Regions from separate parts of the Homo sapiens genome. Here region 1 is linked to region 2. The links come from fine-mapping of genetic effects on gene expression. A gene starts in region 2. The other region holds a variant in brackets. All regions are shown on one strand. Distances are from middle to middle.

Evidence for each region. PIP is the estimated chance that this variant, and not a neighbour inherited with it, causes the effect.
Region 1: its variant is fine-mapped to the expression of TRABD-AS1 in whole blood (TOPMed, PIP 0.91).

Annotation. Positions count from the first base shown.
Region 1 is chr22:50,282,246-50,285,138 of GRCh38, forward strand. It overlaps PLXNB2 (plexin B2), which reads right to left. Exons shown (of 37, transcript NM_012401.4): 12 at 2,328-2,420; 13 at 1,887-1,968; 14 at 1,588-1,745; 15 at 1,357-1,505; 16 at 1,092-1,200; 17 at 805-941; 18 at 466-636; 19 at 1-68. Among named protein-coding and RNA genes, the nearest start is that of MAPK11, 13 kb to the left of the region's middle. RefSeq lists an enhancer at 1-1,071. The variant C/T (reference allele first, on the strand shown) is at 1,603.
Region 2 is chr22:50,199,264-50,202,156 of GRCh38, forward strand. TRABD-AS1 (TRABD antisense RNA 1) reads right to left here and starts at 1,520. Exons shown (of 2, transcript NR_186698.1): 1 at 813-1,520; 2 at 1-65. It overlaps TRABD (TraB domain containing), which reads left to right. Exons shown (of 10, transcript NM_001320485.2): 10 at 1-332. SELENOO (selenoprotein O) reads left to right here and starts at 1,748. Exons shown (of 9, transcript NM_031454.2): 1 at 1,748-2,327. The coding sequence starts at 1,774. RefSeq lists silencers at 1,068-2,007, 2,138-2,217 and an enhancer at 2,578-2,817.

The sequences.
Region 1 (2,893 bases), 83 kb after region 2:
TGACCACCATGGCAAACCTCTGGATCAGGCTGAAGCCCTGACCCGTGACGTTGATGCTGCGGCCACCACTGCGGAGGGCAGTGCCTTCGTGGGCTCGGCTGGCAGGGGTGGTCCCTGCAGCCTCCGCCCTCCCGTCCCCGCCCACCCTGGCCCTGACCACACGGGGCTTCCAGGTGCATGTGTGGGTCTCGGTGGGCAAAGGGGCAACGCGGTGGGACGTGCTGAGCACGAGACTGTGCCGCAAGTGGGCGGGGGGCACACGGGGCCTGGTGAGCGTGGAGCCTCTGGTGTGCCCATCTGGGTTTCTAGGAGGAAGTGGATCTGGAGTGCAGTGGGGTTTTCCGGAGGCCGCCTCCCGCTGCACAGACCAGCCCCACCACATTCCTTTCAGCACAGTCAGCCAAGGGCACTGAGGAGGCAGCTGGGTGTGGGGAGCAGAGGGGGGCGGGGGGACACCAGCCTCACCTGGCAAAGCTTCGTAGCGGCTCGAAGGCTCGCAGTACGGGGTTTTCGCGGTAGGTGAAGAAGATGCCGGGGTTGGGCACGGGGGACCCCCCGTAGGAGACCTCCAGAAGCATCTGGCCCCGTGTCGCCTGGGGGCCAGTGACACACTGGAGCTGCGCCCCAAACTTCGTCCTGGGGGAGGGAGGGTGCTGGTCTGCATCAACCCCTCCCCCGGGACCAGCCCCAGCCCGACCAGGCTGGCCCCGCCATCCCCTCAGGGCCACTCAGGTCTCAGTAAGTGCCCCCCTCCATACCCAGGGCCAGGGCCAACCAGACTCAGCAGCTGGCGGTGACACCCACACTTTACACGGGACGCCGTTGAGGGTCACCCGCACGTCCTCCTGGGAGCCCGTGTCCAGGTGGGTGCCGTGGATGGTCAGTGTGGTGCCGCCCGCCTGCGGTCCCTGCTGCGGCTCCACACTGAGAGGCTTGGGCTGCTGAAAGAGCCGCAGGGGCACTCGGGTGAGGACGGGGCACAGGACGCCCTCGGTCCTGGGCTGGATGGTAACTGTCGTGGGGAGGCGGCGGGCAGAGCCCCTCCTCCCGGTCCTCCCGGGTTCGGCAGGTCCCCGAGGCCGGGTGCTTACTTGGAAGGTGAACTGGACATTGGGAGGCGAACGGCCCAGTTTCCCGAAGACGTCCACCTCGACACCCCCCGTGAAAGGCGTCTCCGCAGCCTCGATCACACACACGATCCTGGCGGGCGACAGGCAGTGTGGCCCAGGCACTCCCCGACCCACCCCACACCCTGACACCCTCACCCCCTCAGCCTCCCCACCCACCCAGTCACCCGGAACCCCAGCGTGGGTACTGACCCAGCTGACAGGGCCCAGACCAGGGCCGTCCACTCACCGGGTGGACACGGAGTAACGTTCCGGCTGAAAGGAGCAGTTCCGGCCGGCCACAGAGATCCTCTGGATGTCCCCTGCTTGGACGCCCAAATTGGACCCCAGGATGGTGATGCGGATGCCCCCACCCAGGGGGCCCGTCTCAGGCTGGATCTGAAACCACAGAGCCGGGTGAGCAGGGAGGGGCTCATGCCAGGGACGAGGGAAGGTGTAGGCCAGGCTTCGAGGGGCTCACCCTGGTGATGACGGG[C/T]GGCGGGCACTCGGAGGTGGTGTTGCACAGGGCCTCATACACGCACCTGCTCTGGCCCCCGCACCACGCACACCTGTAGTCGGGGTTAGCGGCCCGGCACAGGCTGCAGTCGCTGCGGCCAAAGGAGCAGTTGTAGAGGGTCACTGCGGGGAGAGCTGCCGTCAGTGGTCACCCCGTGCCTGCCCGCCCCCGACCTGCTCCCCACTGCGCCCACCTGTCCCCCCACCCACCGCCTTGTGCCCACCCGTCCCCTGCCCGCCCCCCACTGCGCCCGTGGCCCCCACCATGGAGCTTGCTGTCGATATTCTTGCCGTAAGACTTGACGTAGAGGTGCAGGGGCAGCGTCTCGTTGGCATCGTGGGACAGCTGGGGGACACGCAGGGGCACACTGCACTTCCTGCCCCCACAGAGGGGCGTGGGGCGGGGGTCACAAGGGCAGCCTCCCTGTGGCCACCGGGTCCCTTCCCAGCCAAGGGCAGCAGGGGAGGCCTTCAGGTGTCGGAAGTTCGGGAACCCCATGGACGCTGCTCTGTGCCACTCTGTCCCCAGGGAGGCAGAGGGCAGAGGGGGCTTCCCCAGCAGCACAGGGCATGGCGAGCCCCTGGCTGGGCTCTGGTCCCTGGGGTCTCCCTGCTGCCCCTCCCCTCACAGTCCTGAAGGTGACCCCCCACCCCACCCGGGGCCCTGGGGTCCAGCAGCCGAGCCGGCCTGCCCTGGAGCCGTACCTTTGGGGTCCGAAAGGCGAAGGTCCCAGATTCCTGCATGGTCACCGGCTCCATGAACTTGAGCAAGTCACTGCCCACGTGCAGGGAGGAACCCTGCAGACCATGCCGTCAGGACCCTGGACAGGCGGCTGTGGCACCCTGGCCCTCCTCCCAGAACCCCTGCAGCCCCTCCTCTGTGCCTACAGTGTGGGAGCCCTCTCCTCACCCCACACATGCCCGCCCCTCAGATTACCATGCCAGCTGACCCCTCGGCCACTCCTGAGCCCAAACACCTGTGTCTGCAGAAGCCTCTGAACGTCCTCTGTGGGTTTCCCACGGCCACCTCCACCACTCATCCACACCTGAGAACATCGCCCGGCCCACCTGACATCGTGGCCCCCACAGCTCCCTCCTCAGGAGGTGGCACTGGCCCCTCAATCTCCACACGCCTGCCTCCTCCACTGCCTCTCTTCAGGCCCATCCAAAGGCCCCCGAGTGCTGCCTCCTGGCCTCTGTCCCCGATAAATCCTGTGCCCTCTACCTCATGTGGGGGCCCCGAGTCGGGGGGCACGGGTGGAGCTCAGGCT
Region 2 (2,893 bases):
TGAGCCCCCGGAGCGAAGGGGTGCCTGGGGCATCTTGGCCCTCTCTGGGCAGACAATGTGTGCACCTATGTGGAAGGCCAAGGACATGGGCTGTGGCCAGGCCTGTCCCGCTCAGGCCCCCTGCCCGGCGGCCGTCTGTGTGCGGGGCCTCCCTCCTGGCTGTCCAGGACACAGCCCGTGCAGCCCCAGCCTGGACCCAGGCCATCTCTGGTTGTGTCTGTGCCGACTCGGTGTTGAATCAAATCAGGTGTGCGTCAGGAGCCGGCTGTGTCCTTCCTGCCACACTCGGGGATTCATTCCTTAGAAACTGAAATAAATTCTAATTTTGGAAACTCCTGTTTTGTGACGTGTGAACATGGGGTTCAGGTAATGAAGGATCCCTGCCTCTTCCCCCGTGCTCCAGTGCAGCGGGTACTCGTGGCCCTGCCGGGGCCCTGGGGGAAGGAACCTGCCTGGTTTCCAGCAGAAGAGACAGAGTCGGGTCCCTCCATGCTGACCTGTGGGACCCTTCTCACCCACCAGGTGGGACGCAGGTGGCCTGCTGACACTCAAGACCCTCCATACCCAGTCCCACCAGATTCCAGAGTGTGGACCAGACTGAGCCAGACTGGGGCCCCAGGGGGTCGAGGAGACAGATCAGGAGGGCCCAGGGCCTGGGGAATGGGGAGGGGTAACACCTGCCAAGGAGGATGCTGGGAACGGGCGCCCAGAGCGGCCGGGGGGAGGGGGCTGCTGAAGAGGGAACGGTTGCTGTGGGCTGCAGAGGAGGGTTGGGCACGGGGACCTCACCACATTATCCCTCATCCAGTTACCTGCCCAACGCACGCGGAGGGTCCTGAGGGCTTCACCCGCAGCCCCAAAGGGGCAGAGCTGGGGTCACGCAGAGTCTCGGAAGCCCACGCTGTGGCCCCAGGAGAAGCTTCTGGATGTAGCTCCTGTATGTGAAGGGTGGGCTCGCGCCGCTGCCGGAATAAAGGGAAACCACAGGCAGGAGGGAGGCGCGTCCAGGATCCGCGGCCACCGGCCTCTCAGACAGTCCTCTGGGGCCGGGGCCGGAGGAGATGGAAAGCGGGGGCACCACAGACTCATCTGAACCCCCGCGTTCATTCGGACACACAGACCCCAAATTCCTCCCCCAGGGGTCGGGTCCCTCAAGCCAGCCGAAGACCCCGGTGCCCGCCCAGCCCTCCGGGAGGGTCTGCGCCTGCGGCCTCGCGGGGCCTCTCCGAGCCCGGGCGCTGTTCCATGGGCGGGGCACAGATCCAAGGCCCCTTCCCTCCTAGACGGCAGGCGAGGGGCCCGAGAGGCCGGAGGCCAGGGGACAAGGTCCCCGAGAGGCGGCGCGAGGCTCCGGCGGCCCAGAACCGCGGCGGGGTCCGGGTGGGGTCCCGGCCGCCCGTGGGGCGCGGGGCTAAGCCCCGGCCCGACCCGAACGGACGCGGGCCTCGGTCCCCGCTGCCGGCGCCGGTGCAGCCGAGGAAATCCGGGGCTGCCCGAGCGGGGTCGTCGCTGGCGGTCTCGGAGGCGTTCCCATCTGTCACCCCGTTCGCATCAGCGCGCGCCCCGTGACGCCGACAGCCACCCCGGACGCCTCCGACCCTCCGGCCGGGAGATGCGGATAGACGGACGAGGCAGCCAATTAGAGCCCGGCCAGACACCGCGACCCCTCCCCCCACCCGCCCCACTCTCGCCCACTGGCGATTGGGTTGCGGGACGCGCGGGGCGGGGCTTCCGGGCGGGGCAGGCTGGCTTCCGGCGGGAGCGGGGCCGCGGATGGCCGTATACAGGGCAGCGCTCGGGGCTTCGCTCGCGGCTGCCCGACTCTTGCCCCTCGGTCGCTGTTCCCCGTCGCCGGCGCCCCGCTCTACGTTGTCGGGCGCCGCCATGGAGCCCGCGCCTCGCTGGCTGGCGGGGCTGCGCTTCGACAACCGCGCCCTGCGCGCCCTGCCCGTGGAGGCGCCGCCGCCCGGTCCCGAGGGCGCCCCGTCCGCGCCGCGGCCCGTGCCCGGGGCCTGCTTCACCCGCGTGCAGCCCACCCCGCTGCGGCAGCCGCGCCTCGTGGCGCTGTCAGAGCCCGCGCTGGCGTTGCTGGGCCTGGGCGCGCCGCCCGCGCGCGAGGCCGAGGCCGAGGCCGCGCTGTTCTTCAGCGGCAACGCGCTCCTGCCGGGCGCCGAGCCCGCCGCGCACTGCTACTGCGGCCACCAATTCGGCCAGTTCGCCGGGCAGCTGGGCGACGGCGCCGCCATGTACCTGGGCGAGGTGTGCACGGCGACCGGCGAGCGCTGGGAGCTGCAGCTCAAGGGCGCCGGGCCCACGCCCTTCTCCAGGTGGGCCGGGGCGGGCGAGGGGCGCGGGTGGGTCCTCCCCGCCGGGGCGCCCCTTCCCTCCGCCCGGCGCGGTGTTGGGGGCGTCCGGCGGCTACTGCCAAGTGGGGCCTCCCCTGCACCCGCGGGAGCGCGGTGCTGGCAGCCGCCCGCGCCCTGTGCTTATCAACCCGCCGAGGACCTTGGAGTCAGCTCCACCAGGGACGCCGCTCATGTTTACCGACGTTCGCTGGGGCTCCAAACCCAGGGGCGGGAGCCGGGATGAGAGGTTAGGCTAACCCTAACCCTAACCCCGCAGGTCCCCAGCCTTCCTCCGATCGCTCGTGGGGCGGGCCGCTTCGTCCAGCAGCCTCGCTCTGCGACTGACTTCACGGAGGCCTGGCCCTGACTTCCCTGCGGGCAGCCCTTTTTAACCCCGAAGTGAGGTGGGCATCGTTTAGATTTCTGTGGGGGGGCACACAGGTGGTCTAATAAGGCAGGATCTGGGTCCAGATGCCGCCAGGCCCACCGGGGAGCCGTGCACGCGCCACCTGCCTCCTGTGTATAGACAGCGCTTGGGTCTGTTCTGC